Regions from separate parts of the Homo sapiens genome. Here region 1 is linked to region 2. Evidence: fine-mapped expression QTL. A gene starts in region 2. The other region holds a variant in brackets. All regions are shown on one strand. Distances are from middle to middle. Region 1 overlaps IQANK1 (IQ motif and ankyrin repeat containing 1). Region 2 holds the start of SCRIB (scribble planar cell polarity protein).

Evidence for each region.
Region 1: its variant is fine-mapped to the expression of SCRIB in whole blood (TOPMed, PIP above 0.99). The same link has a PIP of 0.9 or more in thyroid and tibial nerve.

The regions. Positions count from the first base shown.
Region 1 is chr8:143,783,546-143,798,002 of GRCh38, reverse strand. IQANK1 (IQ motif and ankyrin repeat containing 1) reads right to left here. Exons shown (of 14, transcript NM_001381874.1): 8 at 8,940-9,088; 9 at 8,760-8,814; 10 at 8,475-8,567; 11 at 8,134-8,242; 12 at 7,939-8,032; 13 at 7,732-7,866; 14 at 7,358-7,653. The coding sequence ends at 7,395. SCRIB (scribble planar cell polarity protein) reads left to right here. Exons shown (of 37, transcript NM_182706.5): 25 at 2,473-2,583; 26 at 2,670-2,726; 27 at 2,891-2,965; 28 at 4,041-4,103; 29 at 4,920-5,027; 30 at 5,136-5,295; 31 at 5,368-5,518; 32 at 5,598-5,783; 33 at 5,870-6,012; 34 at 6,090-6,127; 35 at 6,263-6,337; 36 at 6,563-6,614; 37 at 6,695-7,078. The coding sequence ends at 6,840. Among named protein-coding and RNA genes, the nearest start is that of MIR937, 22 kb to the left of the region's middle. The variant C/G (reference allele first, on the strand shown) is at 4,430.
Region 2 is chr8:143,810,814-143,818,813 of GRCh38, reverse strand. SCRIB (scribble planar cell polarity protein) reads left to right here and starts at 3,041. Exons shown (of 37, transcript NM_182706.5): 1 at 3,041-3,600; 2 at 4,696-4,813; 3 at 4,918-4,996; 4 at 5,088-5,177; 5 at 5,288-5,344; 6 at 5,440-5,503; 7 at 5,710-5,784; 8 at 5,853-5,997; 9 at 6,430-6,548; 10 at 7,469-7,668; 11 at 7,742-7,908; 12 at 7,998-8,000. The coding sequence starts at 3,442. PUF60 (poly(U) binding splicing factor 60) reads left to right here. Exons shown (of 12, transcript NM_078480.3): 6 at 280-441; 7 at 529-621; 8 at 739-952; 9 at 1,032-1,222; 10 at 1,348-1,483; 11 at 1,669-1,904; 12 at 1,995-2,470. The coding sequence ends at 2,294. It overlaps MIR937 (microRNA 937), which reads left to right and starts at 5,772; the gene lies at 5,772-5,857. RefSeq lists enhancers at 2,449-3,081, 3,082-3,714, 3,999-4,663.

The DNA of each region.
Region 1 (14,457 bases), 24 kb after region 2:
AGTTTTGGTTTATTCTGCCATTTGTTTCTCTTTGAAAAATGTAAGCACATACATAAATGAATTTTAAACTTAGAGAAAAGTTGCAAAAACAGGACAAAGAACCTCTGACACTCAGCCCTATTCATGGCTCACCCACTGCGCCGGGGACGTGCTCCGTCGTGGAAGGGCGCGGCCCGATCCCTGTGGGGCTTGGCCACCGCATCCCTCTAGTCTCCTTCGGTCGGAGCGTGCCTCTGTCTTTGCTGATTTCTCTGACCTTGACGCTTCTGCTGGGCGTAGGCCCTGCCTGCAGTGACTGCCCCCACGCTGGGTCTGATGTCCTCACAGGCTTCAGCGTGTGCATCTTGGCCGGGATTATCATGGAGCTACCACGTGTCTGTGTGCCTACCACCAGGGCTCACTGGTGATGCTCTGAACCGTGGGGTCAGCCAGGTTTCCCCCTGCAGTTACTCCTGCCCCTTGAAATCAGCAAGTGAGGAAGGTGCTTTGAGAGCATATAATAGGCTGTTTCTCATCCAGCTTCGCCTGTGAGCCTCAGCACCTTGATGGTTCTGAGCGGGCCCCGAGGTGGTTGGCGACATTCCTGACCCACCACTGCCATACTCATCAGGCAGCTTCCTGCCACCGAGCCTTCCCTTCTCCCAGTTTATGTGTGTCTGCTTACCTGTTCACGTGGGCTCACAAGGGAGTCCATTTCATTAACAAGTGAGCTTCCATTTTATTTCATGGGCGACAGCCTTTTACCATCGTAATTTATTTTGAGGCTCAAATTGTCCCAGCCTTGGCCCACGGAAGGGGCTTGAGGACCTGAGGCATTCTGACACGACCTCCCCTCTCTCAGCAGCCCCTCACCTTCTGCCTCCAGGATGTGCTGGGCTTCTCTCCATACCCTGCCCAGCCCTGGAGTTGCCCCTTTCTCTCAGGAGCGCTGGATCCTTTTAGTGGAGAGTGACATTTAGAAGCTGTGGTCTGGCCCTGGACCCAGCGTTCTTGGGGTGTCATCTCGGGACCTCCTGGGGGCCAGAGCTGGAGGGTATGCCGGTCATTCCCAAGGTTATTCTTGGAACAGTAGAAGAGGGTGAGCTCCTAGTGGCTGTCGGAGTCAGCACCCGGGTCTGCCTTTTCTGTGTTTGAACAGCTCTCTCTGACATGAGAGGCCGGGCTACCTGGGACCTTGCTTCCCACTCTGCCAGGACCCCTGCCTCTCTTGGACCTGCCCAGTGGCTTTTTGACTTGTTATTTCAGAAACTGAGAAGACAGGCACCTTGTTTGTTGTTTGTCCCGCTAGTCCTGTGAGTCTGAAAGAGACGTAGCTAAGTCTGCCTGTGTAACTGTGCTTTTACGACACTCGCGTTTCTAGTCTTTGCTTTCTGTGTTTAGCTGCTTCCTTGTTGAGCGCTTACAGTTGATGACTGTATCATCGTTGTAAACAGCATCTTCTGTGGTGACGGCATCCGTCTGCCTGCTCGACAGCTCTGAACTCACACCCTTTCTCCCCCGGCCTGAGCAGCCCCTCCCTGTGCCTCCCGTGTGTTTGCCTGGCATCTCTTTGCCTGCCCCTTACTTACCATTTCAGCTGTGTTTTTAACCAACAGTACAGGGCTGGGTTTGTCCCTGAGGCCACACTGAGAGCTCCTCGATTTTGCAGGGACCCCGTCTGTGATGAGGGCGGTGAGCAATGCCTGTGTCCACTGTGCTGCCTCCTCCGCTGCTTCTGGCTGCTGCTGGGGGTGGAGGTTTGAAGCAGTCCCGTTGCCCGCCGCAGGCTTGGAAGTCAGCTCTTCCCATGGTTCCCTCTGCCCGTGTTAACCCCAGGCTCGGGATTCAAGTACATCTTGTGCCCAACCAGAAGCCCCTGCCTGTCCTGGCCCTGTCTCCTCGCCCCCCTCTGCCCTGCCTGAGCTATCTGAGTGCCTTTCCTTTCTAGACGCCCCCTCCGCCCTGCCAGTCTCTGGCTTGGGACAGGTGATTGAGCTCTGGGGAGTGCAGAGCTGGCCGGGCCTCCTGCATGGTGTCCCTTGTTTCAGAATCCCTGCCCAGCACTCACACTGGGGTCTGGAGCCAGCCTTTCCACCCGAGGGGGCCGTTCTGCCCCATCAGTTCCAGTGCCTGCTACTCACGCCCCTCCTTCCCCCATCTTGGTGGCTGTCAGCTCTTCCTGGGGATGACTTTACACAGTCAGCAGAGTGGCAGGCATCATGCTACTTCACAGTCTTGCCTAGTGCAGACGTGACCACGTCCACGGCAGCCCTGTGAGCTGTGATGGGGACCGGCCGGGGACAGTGCTGCAGCGTCCTGGGGGGCCCAGCGGAGTGCCCTCCAAGGCTGCCCCAGCCACGCGGTCAGCCCTGCCCAGGGACGCGGCTCCTGGGCTCACCGTTGCTGACTATTCTGGGCTGGGACCCCAGCCTGCCCCAGAGGTGGGACCCCGGGTTGCAGTCCCCCCTTCTTAGCCCACACCCCTCTTCTCAGGTGTCCCCAGGTGTCATTGCCAACCCCTTTGCGGCAGGCATCGGCCACCGGAACAGCCTGGAGAGCATCTCTTCCATCGACCGGGAGCTGAGCCCTGAGGGCCCAGGCAAGGTCAGAGGTGCCTGCAGCCGGCAGCCCCAGGGCCAGGGAGCCCGAGGCCGGTGGTGCCTGACGGGTCTGCTCTGCTCTGCTCACAGGAGAAGGAGCTGCCTGGACAGACCCTGCACTGGGGGCCCGAGGCCACAGAAGCCGCAGTGAGTGTGGTCGCCCCACCCCCTCACATCAGGGCACTGGAGCGGGGTGCACATTGCCTGTGGGGTGCTGGGTAGTAACCCCCAGGACCCCCTCTCCTGCCCTGTGCTGGCCGGGTGCTGCCACGGAGCTACCCCTGCTAGTGCTGTGTTCACTCTGCCCCCAGGGTCGGGGTCTGCAGCCCCTGAAGCTGGACTACCGCGCCCTGGCCGCCGTGCCCAGCGCTGGCAGCGTGCAGAGGGTGAGTGCCCAGTGTGCAGTGCCCCCCACCTCCGTCCTGTTGTCCTGTTCATCGGCCACCCCAGGACAAACGCCAGGGCCATCCGGGAGGGAACCTTTGGGCGGGGGCTGGGGTGGGAGGAGGCCACGTCTGACCTGCAGGCTACCCCAGCCTGGCACATGCTTATCACCCTCATTCTCAACCCAAGCCATGTTGGTGCTGCCCCACCCACACACCCTGAGCTGCGGATGGGTGACACAGGCCGAGGCATCCCTCTAGTGGCGGTGCGAGAGCTTCACCTGCTGCTGCTGGGGCTGCCCAGCCCCAGAGGGTGCGAGTGGGGGCAGAGGCTCCTGGGGGATTGGGCAGGCACATGTCCCCAAGGGGAGGACAGGCTGGAGCAGCTGGAGGGGCGGGTGCTGGGGACAGGCAGGAGGATGTGCAGGCCCATCCCTCCCCTTAGAGATACAAATAACCCTCCCAGAGGGTGCGCCCCACCAGCCCCACCGAACGTGAGTGCCGAGGGGTGGCTCCTGCAGGCCCTTGCCCAAGCGGTGGGGTGGTGGTGAGGGGCCAGGCAGGGCCTGGATCTGAGGCAGCGCATTCGGGGGCTCTTGGGTACTGACCCTGCCTCCTCTGGCCATGGGCAGCGCCAAGAGGGAGGCTTCCGGGAGGCCCTTCATCCTCATGAACAACAGCACAGTCATGGGGGCAGCAGTCAGGGCGCCACTGAGCCCTGAGGGCTGCACACCACAAGTAGGGGCTCCCCACCATCACCTCTGTCTCTGGCCCCTCCCCCGAGCCCTCCCTGCTCTCTTCTCCGGCTGTCCTGTCTGCTCCCATCTCTCCTGCAAAGCTCCAGCCAGCACACTGCCATGGAGACAGCAGCTGCCCAGCCCAGGCCCCCGCATCCTGTGGGAACGGGGACGAGCCCCTCCGTGCTGACCGAGTGTCTGGGGCATCCCCTGGGCTATAGTCAGGTTGGGGAACTGAAGAGCTGCTGTGGCTTTTAGGCAAGCCCCAGGGCCCCCAGTCCCTCCTGGTCGGGGGCCACAGCCCTGCCCATCCTCACCCCACCCACTGCCTACTCCTCCAGGTACCGTCTGGAGCAGCTGGAGGGAAGATGGCTGAATCTCCCTGCTCCCCTAGTGGCCAGCAGGTGAGTGTCCCAAGTTAACGGGTGTGCCCCATGGTGGGTGGAGGGCAGGGCAGATGGCCGCTGTGCACAGGGCCCCTCCTCCAGGGATGGGGGGTCAGGGGCCATCGTGGGGTGCTGTTGACTCCGGTTTTCCCTCTGCTACCATGGGGCCTCCTGTGTGAGGAAGGCCAGGGACGCTTTCCTGGCCAGAGCTGCCTGGCGATGGGGTGGGGGGCCTGAGTGTGCTGTTCCTGGAGGGGCTCAAGCTCCTGAGACCCCAGTCAGTGTCTCAGGCCCAACACCTCCCAGGGCCCACCTTATCCCTGCCTGCCTTTTGTCTGGGGGTC[C/G]TTGCCCCCCCACTGTTGGCACCTCCCAACACACTGCCACGTGGGGGTGGAGGTGGCAGCCCCCATGAGACCCAGCCCCAGCTCAGCCCCTCACAGGCAAGATGTCAGCCCCACCCAGGTTGGTCGGTCTCTCTCTCTCTGTCTCTCCCACCCCCCTCTCTACCCCCGTCCCTTGCCTTAAACCCCTGATCCTGCTCTCCTCTGCCCCCGCCGCCCCCACCTGCCTTTTTTAGACAAAACCAGGGGTGATCCAGCCATTGGCTCAGGCCTGGCCAAGGGGCTCCCCAGCCCCCAGGGGCAGAGGTTGTCCCCACTCCGTGAGTGCTCTGTCCCGTGGGTGGGGGTGGCAGAGCCTCCTTCCCCAGCAGGATGGTGGGTGGGGATCAAAGGCAGGCGGGGGGACAGGCGGGGGGACAGCCGGTGGTGAGTTGCACACAGCTGCAGCCCCGACAGCTGCCCCAGCATAGCTCACAAGAGCCCCACCCCCCAGCCGCCCTCCCCGCCTTCTCCGGATGAGCTGCCCGCCAATGTGAAGCAGGCCTACAGGGCCTTCGCGGCCGTGCCCACTTCTCACCCGCCTGAGGATGCCCCTGCCCAGGTGTGTGGGGGCAGCACGCCTCCCTGCTGCGCGTGGTTGGGGTGGGTGCCCGGGGGCCCCAGTATCTCGGAGGAATGCCAGCCAAACCTCAAGGTCCGCTCCCCCCAGCCCCCCACGCCTGGGCCTGCAGCCTCCCCGGAGCAGCTGTCCTTCCGGGAGCGGCAGAAGTACTTTGAGCTGGAGGTGCGCGTGCCCCAGGCCGAGGGCCCCCCTAAGCGCGTGTCCCTGGTGGGTGCTGACGACCTGCGGAAGATGCAGGAGGAGGAAGGTGAGGGGCACGGAAGTGGGGTGGGGGTTGGGTCTCGGCTGGTCTGGCCTGACCCACCCTGCCCTCCGGCAGCCAGAAAACTACAGCAGAAGAGAGCGCAGATGCTGCGGGAGGCGGCAGAGGCTGGGGCCGAAGCGAGGCTCGCCCTGGACGGGGAGACGCTGGGCGAGGAGGAACAGGAGGATGAGCAGCCACCCTGGGCCAGCCCGAGCCCCACCTCAAGGTGAGCACCCGCCCACCAGACGCCCCCTACTCACCCCACGTGCCCCTGCCCCCCACAGCACGTCCTGTCCCTTCCCCAGGCAGAGCCCGGCGTCCCCCCCACCCCTGGGAGGTGGCGCCCCGGTGCGGACGGCCAAAGCTGAACGGCGCCACCAGGAGCGGCTGCGCGTGCAGAGTCCGGAGCCACCGGCACCCGAGCGTGCCCTGTCCCCTGCCGAGCTCCGGGCCCTGGAGGCCGAGAAGCGTGCGCTGTGGAGGGCAGCCAGGTGAGCCCCTGTGTGGGGTCGCCACCCCGCCCTGCTGCCTGTCCCTGCTCCTGCCCCAAGTCACCCCTGCCCGCTGTTCTCTGCAGGATGAAGTCATTGGAACAGGACGCTCTCCGAGCACAGATGGTCCTCAGCAGGTCCCAGGAAGGCCGGGGCACGCGGGGGCCCCTGGAGCGACTGGCCGAGGCCCCTTCCCCTGCGCCCACCCCGTCGCCCACCCCTGTGGAAGGTCTGTGGGTCAGGGCAGGTCGGGGGGGTCAGCCTGCCGCATGGGCTGCTTCCAATGCCCGCTTCTTGTCCCCCCAGACCTCGGCCCCCAGACCAGCACCTCCCCGGGACGCCTGGTGAGGAGCCGGTGGCTATGCCTTCCCTTCACCCCCGAGGCATGGGGGTGGGGTCTGGCCTGCCCCCACCCCCGTGGCCCTCATCCCCCCCTTTCCTCTCACTCTCTGCCTCTCCCCTCACGCTGTCCTTTCAAGCCCTTGTCTGGAAAGAAGTTTGACTACAGGGCCTTTGCGGCCCTGCCTTCTTCCAGACCTGTCTATGACATCCAGGTACCTGGCCTCCAGGCCTCTGCATGCCTGCCACCCTGTCCGTGCCTGCCACCGCCCCCATCCGCTCCCGCAGGGCCTCCCCACGCTCTGCCGTGGCCCTGCCTCTTCACCCCCCCTCCCCCTTCAGCCGGGCTCTGTGGGCCTCAGGGCTGGGAGCCCACCCGTCCACCTGGGTGGTTTGGGGCAGGGCTGGCACCGGCCTGACCAACACTCTCCCCATCACAGTCACCGGACTTTGCTGAGGAGTTGAGGTCCCTGGAACCATCTCCCAGCCCTGGTGAGTTGGGGCCGGGCTGGGGTGAGCTCCCAGGAGCCCAGCTGCCCTCAGCTCACTGCCCACCTGTCCCTGCCCTCCAGGCCCGCAGGAGGAGGATGGAGAAGTGGCTCTGGTGCTTCTGGGCAGGCCCTCACCCGGCGCTGTGGGCCCTGAAGATGTGGCACTGTGCAGCAGCCGCCGCCCCGTAAGGCCTGGGCGCCGTGGCCTGGGCCCTGTGCCCTCCTAGAGGAGCAGGCACCTCCCCCAGACTTGGGGTGGGGGCCCTGCCAGCTCCAGCACCACCCTTGCCCCAAGTCTTTTAACCTGGGTGTTAGCATTTTAAAGAGACCCCACAGGAGTTCTGGCCTGTGACTAACTAACTGCCCCACCCCAGCCGAGACCTCGGCGAGACTGTAACTAGTGATGTTTGTACAACCAAAGACTCTATTTTGTGGTTTAAGGAGAATAAAGTTGACTACATTTTACCTCCCGTCTGCCTGTCCATCCCCCACCCACTAGCACAGACCCTTCCTGCCCTCCGAGGCGAGGCTGAGCTCCGAGGGCTGCACCCTCACCGTCCCTCCCACGTCTCCCGCTGCGCCTCACTGCGCACGGGTCGGCCGGGCAGGCTGCCCATCCCCAGCAGGGCCTCCCCCAAGTGCCTGCAGACCCATGTCCGCCGGCCGGGGCCCGGGACTGCCGGAGTCCTGGACTGGCACACGCCACCGCTGCCCCCACGCACGCAGCACAGATGCAGCACCGCGCCCCGGGGCACACGTTTTATTGGGACTGGGGCCAGCACTAGAGGCCTGTGCCTGGCAGCTGCACGCGCACTGGGAGCAGCACCTGCAGCTGCTCAGCTGGCGGCCACTGGACCTTGGTGACGAAAAAGAGGCGGAAGTGCTCCAGCCGCTGCTCCTGGAACTGCGTGGGGCTATACTCAGGCCCGTCCGTGGGCCGCAGCAGCGACAGGTACCTCTCCTGCACCGCCTCCAGCTGCCGCTGCACGACTGGGAACAGGTCTTCCTCTCGCAGGTCGAACACCAGCGGCTTCCCATACCTGCCCCATGAGGCTGGTGAGGCCAGGGTGGGGCTAGGGAGGTGGGGTGGGGTGTACCTGTCACCCTGCCTGCCTCACCGCAGAGCCCCCAGCAGAGCCAGCCACATCGTCTCCGGCCTCAGGGGCTCCGGGTTCACCGTGTCCACATAGTTGGTATCCTGGTAGCGCAGGAAGGTGGCCGCCTGGCCCAAAGGGTCAATAACAAGAGGCCACCTGGGGACACCCATCAGGTCACTGCTGTCTGTCCAAACCCCAAATCGCCCACGTCTGGCCCGGAGAACTGACCGGCCATCGGCACGGATGCGGTTGCCTACATCTTTCATCAGCACATCGTGCAGCTCGGTGACCTGGCACTTCAGCCCAGGCGCCTCTTCCTCCCCTGTCGGGGTAGCAGAGTGCAGCTGACAGGCAAGCCCGACGCCGGACCCCGCCCTGGGCTGTATGTCCCAGCCCCCAGCCGGCGCCCCATGCCAGGCCCACCCTCCTGCGTCTGCTCCCGAAGCTCCAGCCTGGCCATAGCCAGCGCCTCCTCGGCCTTCTGGGCCTCCTGCCGCAGCCTGTCCACCTGGGCCTCTGTGTCCTTGATGGCCTGGAGGAGGAGGCCACACTGACTTGCTTGCCCTGCCCCATGCTCTGGCTGGAGAGGGCAGCTGCCCGAGCTTCCTCCCCACCCCACCCCAAGCAGGCCACTGTCGGCTGGTGACTCCCCATGTTTGAGAGGGAAAAACCCCAGGCCTGGGAGCGGGGAGCTCTGGGCTGGTTTGGAACAAGGAGGGGTGTTGAGGACGCAGGGGCATATCAAGTCCACCACGGGCCCCCACCTGCAGCGTGAGCTTGGTCTTGTCCATGCACCTCCACTCACACTGGTCGTGCTCTGAGATCCTCCGGCTAAGCTCACAGTAGGCCTGTTGCAGCTGGGTGGGCGTACGGGCAGGCCCTGGCAAGGCTGGCCAGTATCCTCCGACCAGGTCACTCCTGGCCCAGGGGCCTGAGGACACCTCCCCTCCTGGCTCTTCCCCCAGCTTCCTGGCCCTCCCTCGGCTCCCCCTCCTCCCCACCCGGCTCTCCCTCCTCCTTTCCTGGCTCCTCCCTGAGGTCACACTCACCTCCTTGTGACACTGCTGCTGCTCCCTGGTCAGCTGTTGGACCTTGAGGGTCATACTAAGGAGCAGGAATGAGCTGGGACAGAGGCTTCCGCCAGCGCCCCCACCAGCACCCCCTGCCCGGGCTCCCTGCCAGCGCCCCTTGCCAGCACCCCTCGCCAGCACCTCCCACACCCCTCCTGCCTTCCACACCGCTCAGCCTCGGCCTCCTTGTGCCTCTGGGCCTCCTGGGCCCGGCGCTGCTGCTCAGCCTCCATGTTCTGGAGCATGGCCTCCGTGAGGCTCAGGTCCCACGAGCGCAGCACGCTCACCACTGTGTCCAGTGAGGCCACCTAGTGACAGACGACATTTGTCGGGCCCTCAGTGCGTGTTCCGAGTCTCCTCAGCCTGGAGAGGAACTGTTGCTCTCCCATCTGGGAGAAAGGGTGCCATTATGCAGAAAGGGCCTCAGTGCTCACAGCTGGTGCGTGGTGGGCCCCAAAGCATGAGCCCCTGTGGGGCTGCTGTCCCCAAAGCCCAGGCCACCCAGGCCGCTGGGAATTCTCCTGGGCTCCCTGACCAAGTCCAAGCAGGAACCTGCTCCTGTGGCTGGGCCTCCAAGGGCTTCCTTCCCCTTCAGTCCCCCAGGACCTGGCCCAGGCTTCCCGCCTCTGTCAGACTCAAGTACACGCCTGAGGCCTTGGGTGCCACTGCTGCTTCCTGAGTAGGAGGCTGGCCCGCAGGATGTGCACACTGGAGCTCCCTCCTCTGTGGTCTCCCACAGATCTCTGCCTGCAGGACACAATCCCTGGGGCCGCCGCTGCCTCTCACCCTCCTGAGTCCCCAGCACTCCAGGAGCAAGGAGTGGGTGCAGAGAGCCGGGCTCAAAGCCCAGCTGCGCCGGGTGAGTCCCTGACTTCCTGTGCCTGGCCCTCCTTGTCTGTGGAGCAGGGGTGATGCTTGGAGGGGGTCACAGTGAGGAGGAAGGAAGAGCAGGAGCTCAGAGCAGGTCCACATGCGCCTGGTGGCGGGCCAGTCCCGGCATCACGCTTGACCAGGAAGCTGTTCGTGGGTGGCTCCGTGTGTGAATGCCACTTGCCCCTTCCTGCTCTGGGAAGCAGGGGTGACCAGGGCCTGTTGTCTAGTGTGGCCAGCTCCCTAATAGCTGGATGACAGCGGAAGGAGGCAAGGCGGTAGCTGAGAAGGGCCGGGTGGGGCAGGGAGACTCTCATACTCGGAATTAGGCCTGCGAAACAGTCGGGGCCCGAGGAGCTGCTGGCTGGAGAGCAGAGGCCTGGGAGAAGAAGAGCAGGTGGCTGAAGGTGGGTGCCACAACCAAGAGCAGACCGAGAAGGTGTGGCAGGCCTGGCGACGGGGCCAGGTGGAGGTGGACAGGCACGGGCCATGGAGCAAGCAGAAGGCACTGCGTTAGGGGTGCGCGGGTGAGCGGCCGCATTCCCACAGAGCAAGGGGTTTGTGGCGTGGGAAGGATGAAGACAGGATGAGGGGAAGGAGGTGGGGTGCGCGGGTGAGCCGCCGGCGTTCCCACAGAGCAAGGGGTTCGTGGCATGGGAAGGATGAAGACAGGATGAGGGGAAAGAGCGGGGGCAGGATGAGTTCCCTGTAGCTCTTCCAGGAGACTGGCCACAGACAAGTGCAAACAGGGAGACTGAATGTGGGCAGAACTGGGAAGAACTCACAGATGCACGGGAGGGAGGGAGACACAGCAGACGAGAGGGAGAGAAGCAGTGGCGCGGCGTGGCCTTGGGTAACTGCCATCCTGGCTGAGTCGGTGCTGACTTAAGCATTTGTCTACAGATGCAGGGGGCAGAGATGGAAAGAAGGGGCAGTGTAGGGGGCCTGCAGGTCTGTGGGGGGCCAGGGACATGCAGACACGTGGTAAACTCACCTCCACGGCCACCTGATGGATCCACAGGCTAACCACGGCCTGAGGACTGCCCTGTGCTATCTGCTTCCCAGCAGCTAGGACCAAAAGTTCAAAGCCCACCAGGGCCAAAATCAAAATTTTACACAGACATTTGCTTTAAATAGAGCCCAAATATGCATACTTCTAGACATTTAGACCGACCCTGCTTGCTTTGAATACCCTGCAAAACTGAACCCACGTCTGCCAGTGGTGGATGAGACAAACCCTGGGGCTACAAAAGCCTTCAGGCTGGGCTGCCCTCTGGAGCTCCCTGGTGCCCCATCCTGCTTCTGAGCAGTTTCCCCTAGGCGTCAAGCCCTCCGTGAAAACCTGTCCAAGTGCCACCAGAATAAAGCTCACTGCGTGCTACCGCCCTCTCCTGGTCCTGTATTCCTCGATCAGCCCCCAAATCCTCCAGCCTCTGTGCCTCATTCCCTGGCAGCCACAGGGGCTCCTTCCTTGTCCCCCTCAGGATCTTACACTGGCCAGTCCTCCTGTCTGGAAGCTCCTCAGGCGTTCACAGCCCTCATTCCCTCCCCTCCAAGTTCTCCCTTGTATGCCACCTTCTCAGCAAACCCCACCTTGGCCACCTTTCTTAAAATTCCAGCCCAGCCCTGCCCGCCCTGGTAGCCTGGCATCTCCACTGCACTGTGAGTTGTGACAGAAGGGACTTTGTTTTGTTCAAGGATGGGTCCTAAGGACCTAGAACAGCTCCCAGCTCAGGTCTTCTGTCAGTTGGTCCAGTGGCTGGGCTAATCATGAACGGATGAGCTAATTCGTACATTAGCATATACCTGATTGTTTGGACAGATAAATGGGTAAACACATAGGAGAGATGACTATATAGATGTATTCATTTATGCACATTCTTCTGCACATTTATCAATGATTCTGTCTATATTTGTAAATATAAATTTGCAAATATAAACGTGGGTGGGTGAGTGAAGGAATTTATGAATATGCAAATTTGATCCTCACTTTGGGGTCCTAAGGACAGTAGCCTCCGAGTGAGGTTGACTTCAGCTTAGCTTCAAATCATCTTAATCTCTGAAGTTGGTGAAGTGACTCCAGACCGCTGGTACCCCCAATACATGGCAAAACCTAAATCCTCAGTGAAAAAAGAGTGAAAAATACCTTTCTAGGCTTCAAATGATTCCTACCAGTAAAACGTATGACATGGCCAGGCAAGGTGGCTCATGCCTGTAATCCCAGCACTTTGGGAGGCTGAGGCATGCAGATTGCTCGAGCCCAGAAGTTGAAGACCAGCCTGGGCAACATGGCAAAATCCTGTCTCTACAAACAAATAAAAAAAATTAGGCCAGGCACGGTGGCTGACGCCTGTGATCTCAGCACTTTGGAAGGCTGAGGCAGGCAGATCACAAGGTCAGGAGTTGGAGACCAGCCTGGCCAACGTGGTGAAACCCCGTCTCTACTAAAAATACAAAAATTAGCCAGGTGTGGTGGTGCGTGCCTGTAATCCCAGCTACTTGGGAGGCTGAGGCAGGAGAATTGCTTGAATCTGGGAGGTGGAGGTTGCAGTGAGCTGAGATCGTGCCACTGCATTCCAGCCTGGGTGACAGAGCAAGATTCCATCTCAGAGAAAAAAAAAAAAAAATAGCTGGGCATGGTGGCTCAAGCCTGTAGTCTTAGCTACTTGGGAAGCTGGGGCAGGAGGATCATTTGAACCCAGGGGGTCAAGGCTGCAGTTAACTGTGATCACACCACTGCACTCCAGCCTGGGTGACAGAGCAAGACCCTGTCTCAAAGAAAATAAAAAATAAAAAAGGCTGGGTCTGGTAGCTCACGCCTATAATCTCAGCACTTTGGGAAGCTGAGATGGGCAAATTACTTGAGGTCAGGAGTTCAAGACCAGCCTAGCCAACATGGCAAAACCCCATCTCTACTGAAAATACAAAAATGAGCTGATGTGGTGCTGCACACTGGTAGTCCCAGCTACTCGGGAGGCTGAGGCATGAGAATCGCTTGAACCTGGGAGGCAGAGGTTGCAGTGAGCTGAGATCATGCCACTGCACTCTAGCCTGGGTGACAGAGGAAGACTCTGTCTCAAAAAAAAAAAAAAAAAAAAAGATACAGAACAAAGGCACAGGAAAATACAAGGCAATATAAACAAAAATCTGCAGAAACTACAAATGATAGAAATAGCTCCACAAGGGATCAGGATATTAGAGTTAGCTACAGATTTTCAAATAACTATATTTACTGTGCTCAAAGAGAGACTAGATTGATTTTAGCAGAGAGCTGGAACCAAATAAAATTTTAGACATGAAAATTAAAATAACCAAAATTAAGGACAAAGTGCATGGATTTAATAACTAGCTAGATGCAGCTGAAGAGAGAATTAGTAAACTGAAAGACATGTCACAAGAAAATATCCAGAATAAACTCAAAACAAAAGGATGGAAAATACAGAAAAGAGGGTAAAAAAACTGTGGTAAGTTACTAGTGCTGATCATCAAACATGTCCGTCCTTCCACCTTCTAGACATAGTATAGGATTACACTTCCTGACCAATTTGTGGTTTTGGTGGAGCCAAATGACTAGATCTGACCAATGAGCTATAAGTAGAAGTGTTTGTGCTAGACCCTCCTCAGCTCTTTCCCTCTGGTATACTGACCAGCAATATTCAAGATGGTGGTTGCTCTGTCAGCCTGGGTCCCTAACAGACTACAGTTAGCAGAAGCCCCCTGTTAACCCTCAATGGACATGTAGCATAAGTAAAAAATAAACTCATTTTGTTTTATACCATTGAGATTTGGAGACTGCATGTTCCACAGCACATCTGTATTAGTCCATTCTCACATGGCTAAAAAGAACTACCTGAGACTGGGTAATTTATAAAGAAAAGAGGTTTAATTGACTCATGGTTCTGCAGGCTGTACAGGAAGTATGGCTAGGGATACCTCAGGAAACTTACAATCATGACAGAAGGCCAAGGGGAAGCAGGCACATTTTACATGGCTAGAGAAGGAGGAAGAGAGAGCAGGGGGAGGTGCTACATACTTCTAAACAACCAGATCTCATGAGAACTCACTATTGTGAGAAGACCATGGGGAAATCAGCCCCCGTGATCCAATCACCTCCCCCCAGGCCCCTCCTGCAACACTGAGGATTACAATTTGACATGAGATTTGGGTGGGGACATAGATCCAAAACATAGCAACATCCTAGTCTATCCTGGTTGATACAGAAATGTAGAGGCTATGGTGAGATCTACCATCTGTATATTTGGAGAGTGAGAATAAGGGCAGAAACAGAGGTAATGACTGAGAACTTTCCAAAACCCAAGCATGAAGAAAAACAAGGTGGGAAGACTTGCTTTTATCTGGTACAAGACTTGTTATAAAGCTGCTGTAGTCAAGACATGGGTATTGACACAGGATAGATCAATAGACCTATGGAACAGAACAGCGATCCCAGAACAGAGCTATAAGTATATAGACACTTGACTTAGGGCACAGTTGATGGTGTAGAGTGAGGAGGGCAGTCTTTCACAAAGACTGTGGGTGCTCTCAGGACAACTGTGCATCCATATGAGAAATAAACAAGCTTGAACATGACCTTGCACAAGGAGGACCAAAACAACGCACAGAAGTCTATTCTAGTGGATGATGGCTCTAAATGTGAAAGATGTAGAAGACTGCACCAGAAAATATCTTTATGTCCTTGGGAGGATGGAGAGACTTCTAAACTGACATAAAAGGCACCAACCATAAAGGAAAAGAATGATAAAATTTACTACAGTAAAACAAAATTTTCCATCAAATTATAACATTA
Region 2 (8,000 bases):
CCTCCTGACCATCTGTCGGCTTTGCTGCCGCAGTCTGCCTGGGACCTTGGCGGGCTGGGGTGCGTCCTGTCCTGCCGCTGGGCCTGGCCTTCCTTCTTTGGGTGGCGGGGTCCTGCGACCCCCACACTATGACTGCAGGGATGGAGCCCGCACCTCCCTGTCATGTGGGGAGCCCTCCCCACAGCAGGGCTGGGTGGGTGGGCCAGGAGGGGAGTGGGCTGCCCAGCTTCCTGCCGCCCCTGACGAGCCAGCGGTTCTCTCCCCTCTGTCCTGCTGCAGATGGCGGCTCAGCGGCAGCGGGCGCTGGCCATCATGTGCCGCGTCTACGTGGGCTCTATCTACTATGAGCTGGGGGAGGACACCATCCGCCAGGCCTTTGCCCCCTTTGGCCCCATCAAGAGCATCGACATGTCCTGGGACTCCGTCACCATGAAGCACAAGGTCAGCAGGCTTGGTCCGCCCCGGCCACTTCGGGCTCGCCCCCACCCCTGGGCTCGCGCAGCCTGACAGGTGTGTCCCTGTGTCTAGGGCTTTGCCTTCGTGGAGTATGAGGTCCCCGAAGCTGCACAGCTGGCCTTGGAGCAGATGAACTCGGTGATGCTGGGGGGCAGGAACATCAAGGTGAGGCAGGGAGCCAAGGCCTCGATCCCGCAGGCGTGCAGGGCTGCCCCTCCACGGAAGCCTTTTGTGGCCGGGCCTGGGTTGACCGGTCTTTCCATCTCACCGCCTCTTCCCCAGGTGGGCAGACCCAGCAACATAGGGCAGGCCCAGCCCATCATAGACCAGTTGGCTGAGGAGGCACGGGCCTTCAACCGCATCTACGTGGCCTCTGTGCACCAGGACCTCTCAGACGATGACATCAAGAGCGTGTTTGAGGCCTTTGGCAAGATCAAGTCCTGCACACTGGCCCGGGACCCCACAACTGGCAAGCACAAGGGCTACGGCTTCATTGGTGAGCTGGGGTGGCTGAGGCGGGATGGGGGCCACCTGAGGCTGGGGCTGGCCCTGCTCACTGCTGCTCCTGCCCACAGAGTACGAGAAGGCCCAGTCGTCCCAAGATGCTGTGTCTTCCATGAACCTCTTTGACCTGGGTGGCCAGTACTTGCGGGTGGGCAAGGCTGTCACACCGCCCATGCCCCTACTCACACCAGCCACGCCTGGAGGCCTCCCACCTGCCGCTGCTGTGGCAGCTGCTGCAGCCACTGCCAAGATCACAGCTCAGGTGAGGGCCCACACAGCTGTCGGCTTGAGGGTGGGCGGGCTGGCCCCTGATTCCTTGGAGACTGATTCAAGGTGGTCTTGAGTAGCCAGACCAGGGACTGAGCACGGTGACCTTTTGGGTTGCAGGAAGCAGTGGCCGGAGCAGCGGTGCTGGGTACCCTGGGCACACCTGGACTGGTGTCCCCAGCACTGACCCTGGCCCAGCCCCTGGGCACTTTGCCCCAGGCTGTCATGGCTGCCCAGGCACCTGGAGTCATCACAGGTGAGTCTTAAGTGGTACCAGATCCTCTCCTCTCCTGTCCTGGCATCTCTCGGCTCGCTGCCCTCAGCTGCCTGGCCCTGGTGGTCTGGGCACAACCCTCTGAGCCCAGGGCAGGCCAGCTCTGTGCCTTTCTGGGAAGGGGGGTGGTAGGGAGTGACTGATGGACCTGGTTGGTTTTCCTGCAGGTGTGACCCCAGCCCGTCCTCCTATCCCGGTCACCATCCCCTCGGTGGGAGTGGTGAACCCCATCCTGGCCAGCCCTCCAACGCTGGGTCTCCTGGAGCCCAAGAAGGAGAAGGAAGAAGAGGAGCTGTTTCCCGAGTCAGAGCGGCCAGAGATGCTGAGCGAGCAGGAGCACATGAGCATCTCGGGCAGTAGCGCCCGACACATGGTGATGCAGAAGCTGCTCCGCAAGCAGGAGGTAGGCAGAGGGGCAGGGTGGTGGCGGGGGAGAGGGTAGGGGGGCGGGGCCGCAGTGCTCAGCTGTCTTCCCCTCGGCCCTGCCCCACAGTCTACAGTGATGGTTCTGCGCAACATGGTGGACCCCAAGGACATCGATGATGACCTGGAAGGGGAGGTGACAGAGGAGTGTGGCAAGTTCGGGGCCGTGAACCGCGTCATCATCTACCAAGAGAAACAAGGCGAGGAGGAGGATGCAGAAATCATTGTCAAGATCTTTGTGGAGTTTTCCATAGCCTCTGAGACTCATAAGGCCATCCAGGCCCTCAATGGCCGCTGGTTTGCTGGCCGCAAGGTGGTGGCTGAAGTGTACGACCAGGAGCGTTTTGATAACAGTGACCTCTCTGCGTGACAGTGGTCCCTCTCCCCGGACTTGCACTTGTTCCTTGTTTCCTCTGGGTTTTATAGTGATACAGTGGTGTCCCCGGGGCCAGGCGCGCTCTGCCCAGCCCAGCCTACAGTGCGGATAAAGGTGCGGATGCTGCTGGCCCTGAACGTCCGTGTGTCTGCCGTCGGTCCTGTCACCGATCCTGGGCGTGTGTCCTTAGGGGGTCTAGGGCGAGGAGGCAGGGTTGGGGGGGTCTCTGGACCTGCTTCCTGTTGGCAGGAGGGGCCTGCCGTGGGCGAGACCTGGGCAGGGGGTTGGCGCCCCGGGCCCCGTCCCGCGGGTGGCGGCGGCTGGGTGGGCGGGGCTGCCTGGGGCGCCAGGCTCTCGCGCGCGGGCTCGCAGCCGTCCCCGCAGGGTGGTGCTGAGAGAAGGCTGGGCACCGGGACACCGCGACCCGCTGGACAGCGCGCGCTGCCAGTGCTTTTGTGCCGCAGAGCCGGCCGTCCAAGGCGGGCGGGCGGGCATGGTCGCTTCCCGGGAGGAGGCTGTGCGTTAAGATTCGTGGCCAAATGCCGCGGGGCCAGGGGCCGGGCTGAAGACCGGAGGGCGGAGGGCGCCGCCTCTCGTGGATTGTAGCTCCCAATATCCCGCGCGCGGGGCGGGCCCGGCTTCCCGGCACGCTTTGCGCGGTGCCGCTACGGGTCCTCAGAGGCGGCGGCGCGCGGGGCCTTCTGGGGGCCGCAGTCCGGGCGTGCTAGGCGGCGAGGGCCGGACTCGGCTTCCCGACGGGCTGCGCGGCGGCCGGGTGGGTGTCGGCGGGGCAGTCCGGCGGGCAGCGGCGGTTCCGGTGCGGCACAGCGGGCGGACGAGCGGGCGGGACGAGCTGAGCAGGACCAAGCGGGATGCGGAGCCGCCGCCGCCGCCGCTCCCCGCGCTTCCTAAGAGTCTGAGACCCGCCGGGCCGCGCCCCCTGCCCAGGCCCGCAGTCCGAGCGTTCCGAGCGCGGGCCGGGCCCAGCGCCGGCCGCGGCCGCGTCCCCGTCCAGTCTCGGGCGGCCCGCCCCCTGCCTGCGCCCCCTCCCCATGCGCGGCGCCCATGCGGACTGAGCCCCGCCCCCCGGCCCCGAGCCCGCCGAGCGCCGCCGCCGGAGCCCGCGCCGCCCACCCGCACCATGCTCAAGTGCATCCCGCTGTGGCGCTGCAACCGGCACGTGGAGTCGGTGGACAAGCGGCACTGTTCGCTGCAGGCCGTGCCGGAGGAGATCTACCGCTACAGCCGCAGCCTGGAGGAGCTGCTGCTCGACGCCAACCAGCTGCGCGAGCTGCCCAAGGTGAGCGGCCGCCCGCACCTGCCGCCCAAAGGCGCGCCCCCAGCCCGTGATTCCTCCGGCGGCAGAATCTGCCCGGGCGAGTCACCGCAGCCTCCAGCCGGCCCTGCTGGTTTGCACTGGCCAGGTCCCCACCCCAGCCAGCCCCACCCTTCTCTTCCAGCCGCCCTGGCTGGCGCAGGTGGCAGCGGTCATCAGGTGCTTGCCTGGGGATAGCGATTGTCACCGAGCCTGGAGGCGGAGCCTCAGAGTGAAACCCGTGGGGATTCAGGGAGGTGGATGGGGTTAGGGTGGAACTTGGATTCAGGTGGCTGATGAGTACTAGCTTCTTGGGCCGCTCTGGAGGTGGGTCCAGACCTCCTCTCCTTTTTTGCTGGGTGCAGGGGTGAGTGGGGGAGCCCTCTTGATGTACTCTTTGCTCTCGGATCTGTTCGCTGTCCCCCTTTCTTTACCCTTGCTTCTCGTGGTCAGGTGCTCTCCTAAGGCTGCTACAAGAAAGGAGGCTGGAGAAAGCAGATTAAAAAGTATTTCTTTTCTGGAGATGGGGTGCTGGGTGATCAGTACCTAGGGGTTGGGTGTCCCAAAGAATGTGACCCTGTTCTGGCCGTGGCAGTGACAGCTCGGTCCTCTGTGGCCACCTGCAGGCCTCGCGCGTAGCACTGTGCCTGTGGTACTGTGTTATTGTGGGGAGCGTTTACTGAGTTCTTGCTGCAGAACCAGGCCAGGCTTGTTGTCAGGATGCAGTAGCAGAGGCCAGTGTGGGCCCCTGGAGGGTGGCAGAAGTGGTTCAGGGGCTGGGTGGGCCCTGAGGTAAGACACAGGGTAGGGGATTGGGGCTTTGTCTGGTCGCCAGCAGGTGTCTTCTCAGAGTGGAGGCTGGTGTGAAGAGTAGAGGGAGGCAGCCACAGTGGGCGTGTGTACCGTGTGTTTCTTTCCTTTTTTTGCAAATGGGGTGTCGTGGTTAGACCCCAGGACCCGGTGTGACCTGGAGCAGACAGAGGCCTAGGGACTCTTGACTTGTGACACTCACGTGTCCAGGAGCTCTTCTCTGCTCTGCAGTGGTCTCTGCCACAGAGTCCGTGTCCTCCCTGCCCACAGCCTTTTTTCCGGCTGCTGAACTTGCGCAAGCTGGGCCTGAGCGACAACGAGATCCAGCGGTTGCCTCCCGAGGTGGCCAACTTCATGCAGCTGGTGGAGCTGGACGTGTCCCGGAACGGTGGGGAGCCTGGGCAGGGGCTGGGTGGGGTCTGGGGAGTGTCCGCTGGGGCTGCAGACGGCCTGCAGGCCATGGCATCTGTCCACTGTGACCCTCTGTGACAGATATCCCTGAGATCCCGGAGAGCATCAAGTTCTGCAAGGCTCTGGAGATCGCGGACTTCAGCGGGAACCCCCTCTCCAGGTGGGTGGCAGCCTGTGGTGGGGTCGGTAGGGGCTATGGGTCCCACAGCCCTGGACTGGTCATCCGAGGGCCTCTGCTTCCTCCCATCCAGGCTCCCTGATGGCTTCACTCAGCTGCGCAGCCTGGCTCACCTGGCCCTGAATGATGTGTCTCTGCAGGCACTGCCCGGGGACGTGGGCAAGTGAGTGCCTTCTCAGGTGGAACTAGGGTGGGGTGGGGGACCAGGATTGGCCCTGCCCCTGCTGCCACTGCTTTCCTTCCTCTTGCCCCAGCGCCTGGTCTCTCTTTCAGCCTCGCCAACCTGGTGACCCTGGAGCTCCGGGAGAACCTGCTCAAGTCCCTGCCAGCGTGAGTGTGACAGGCATTCTCCTAACAGCCAGGGCAGGGCCACAGCCCAGGGACCAGGGCTGCGTGGCCACACCTCCACCCTGCTTCCTCTGCAGGTCCCTGTCATTTCTGGTCAAGCTGGAACAGCTGGATCTGGGAGGCAACGATCTGGAAGTGCTGGTGCGTGGAGGCCTGACAGGGCAGAGACCGGAGGGCGGGCCACGGAAGCAAGGGCAAAGAAGGGGACAGCGAGCAGATCCGACAGCAAGGGGCACCTCGGGAGGGCAGGCGGGTGGGAGCTGGGTGTGGGGGCGTATAGTCTCTTGAGCACGGCGCAGCAGGAGGCTTTGCCTCATAGTCACTATTTTCTCTGTTCCTTCTTGCAGCCAGACACTCTGGGGGCTCTGCCCAATCTTCGGGAGCTGTGGCTTGACCGGAACCAGCTGTCAGCACTGCCCCCGGTGAGTCAGGGTGGGGCTGGCCCCCTGCTTCGTGCCCATCCGCGCTCTGACTCTCTGCCCACCTGCAGGAGCTCGGGAACCTGCGGCGCCTGGTGTGCCTGGACGTGTCGGAAAACCGGCTGGAGGAGCTGCCTGCTGAGCTCGGCGGGCTGGTGCTGCTCACTGACCTGCTGCTGTCCCAGAACCTGCTGCGGAGGCTGCCCGACGGCATCGGTTAGTGTGCCTGGGGGTGCCTGGGTGGGGCACACGGAGCCTGGCCCTGGGAGGAGCGTGGGGCGTCGGGGCTGTGTGTGGTGTGGAACACAGGGGAGGATCCTGAGTGTGCCCAGGCTCTGGGAGCTGTCCCTGGGGAGGGGAGGTGGGACCCTGGGGCAGCCCAGAAGGCTGAGGAGGCAGCTGGTGGTGCTGGAGGGGGCGGTGGAGTCTGTGAGGGCGGAAGGGTGGCAGTGCCACTGGGGCCTGGTGTTTTCTTGAAGGAGGTTGGGTCAGGCTTGTGGGGCAAGGTAGGTAGGGTCCTCCCGAAGTACGGCGGCGGCAGAAGGGGCTGGGGGCCTTGCTGTCTGCCTTGAGGGCGCTTCTGGCCAGGTGGGTAAGGCACGTCTGGGGACCATGCTCAGCCTTGTCCCCCTGTCTCCCCGACGCCAGGTCAGCTGAAGCAGCTATCCATCCTAAAGGTAGACCAGAATCGGCTGTGCGAGGTGACCGAGGCCATCGGGGACTGTGAGAACCTCTCTGAGCTGATCCTCACGGAGAACCTGCTGATGGTAGGGTCTGGCTTGGGAGGCAGAAAGGATGGGGCCGTCGGGGGTGCAGAACAAGGACAGGGCATCAGCCTGTGTCTGCTGCTGGGGGGTGCTGGTGGCAGCCTGACGTGGAGCCACTCAGGAAGGGCTCTTCTCTTGTCAGAGGGGGAGCATGCTGGCCGGAGGTGAGGCGGGGCAGTGAGGCCAGGGCAGGGGCCTTTGCCGTTTACCGTGAAGAATCTAGGTCTCGTGTTTATCGCTGTATGTTGTAACACTGGGGAGCGGTTACAGAAGAGGCAGGAATGGGAACTTATTTGTCTGTAGGGAAGACAGATGGAGAGCAGGCTGCTCCCCAGGGGCGTCTGCCTGCCCCTCACAAAGCAGGGCAAGCTGAGGCACCAGGCCACGGTTCGGGACGGTGGTGTTGCTATCCCCATCCCCAGGCTGGGAAACAGGAGCTAGCTGTGGGGAGGGTGTTCATGGGAGTTTCCGGGGGGGTTCCTCACTGGGGAGATGGAGAAAGGGACTCTGGGGTTCAGGGCCCTGGGAAGGGGCTGGCCCTGAGCAGGCAGGCTGGAACTGGGGGCCTGGGGAGCCCTAGGGATGACAGGGCAGACCAGTGGGGCACCAGACAGGCTCACAGGGCGCAGCCTCGCAGGTCAGTCCAGGGCACCCATGGGAGAGGGTCAGGGATGACCTGGTGGGGTGTTTTGGTGGTGGGGACTGAAGGCTGAGGGCAGTGGGCAGAGCTTGGGGAGCAGAGGGCACGAAGTGGGGTGGAGACAGCTTCTGTGGTCAGGTCCTTGTCCCGGTCTCCAGGGGCTGTGAGGGACCCTGGCTGGAGCTGGCCTGGGGTGTCTGTGCCCTCCTGCCAGGGGCTGTCATCTCCTTCCCACCCCCAGCAAGCCCCTAGCGTCCTCTGACCTCCTCTTCTTGGCCAGGCCCTGCCCCGCTCCCTGGGAAAGCTGACTAAGCTGACCAACCTCAACGTGGACCGGAACCACCTCGAGGCGCTGCCGCCCGAGATCGGGGGCTGTGTGGCACTCAGCGTCCTCTCCTTGAGGGACAACCGCCTGGCCGTCCTGCCACCAGAGCTGGCCCACACGACAGAGCTGCACGTGCTGGACGTGGCGGGGAACCGGTGAGTGCCAGCCTTGCCCTGCGGGCCTAACCGTGGCCCCAACGCCTGCTGACTGTGCCCGCCCGGCCCGCAGCCTGCAGAGTCTGCCGTTCGCGCTCACCCACCTCAATCTCAAGGCCCTGTGGCTGGCAGAGAACCAGGCGCAGCCCATGCTCCGGTTCCAGACGGAGGATGATGCCCGGACCGGCGAGAAGGTGCTCACCTGCTACTTGCTGCCCCAGCAGCCCCCACCCAGCCTCGGTAGGTTGTTGGCAACCGGTGCTTAGCGCGGGGTGGCTCTCAGGCAGGGTTTGGGGACTAGCCTGGGTCCTGACGCTCACCTGCTGCAGAGG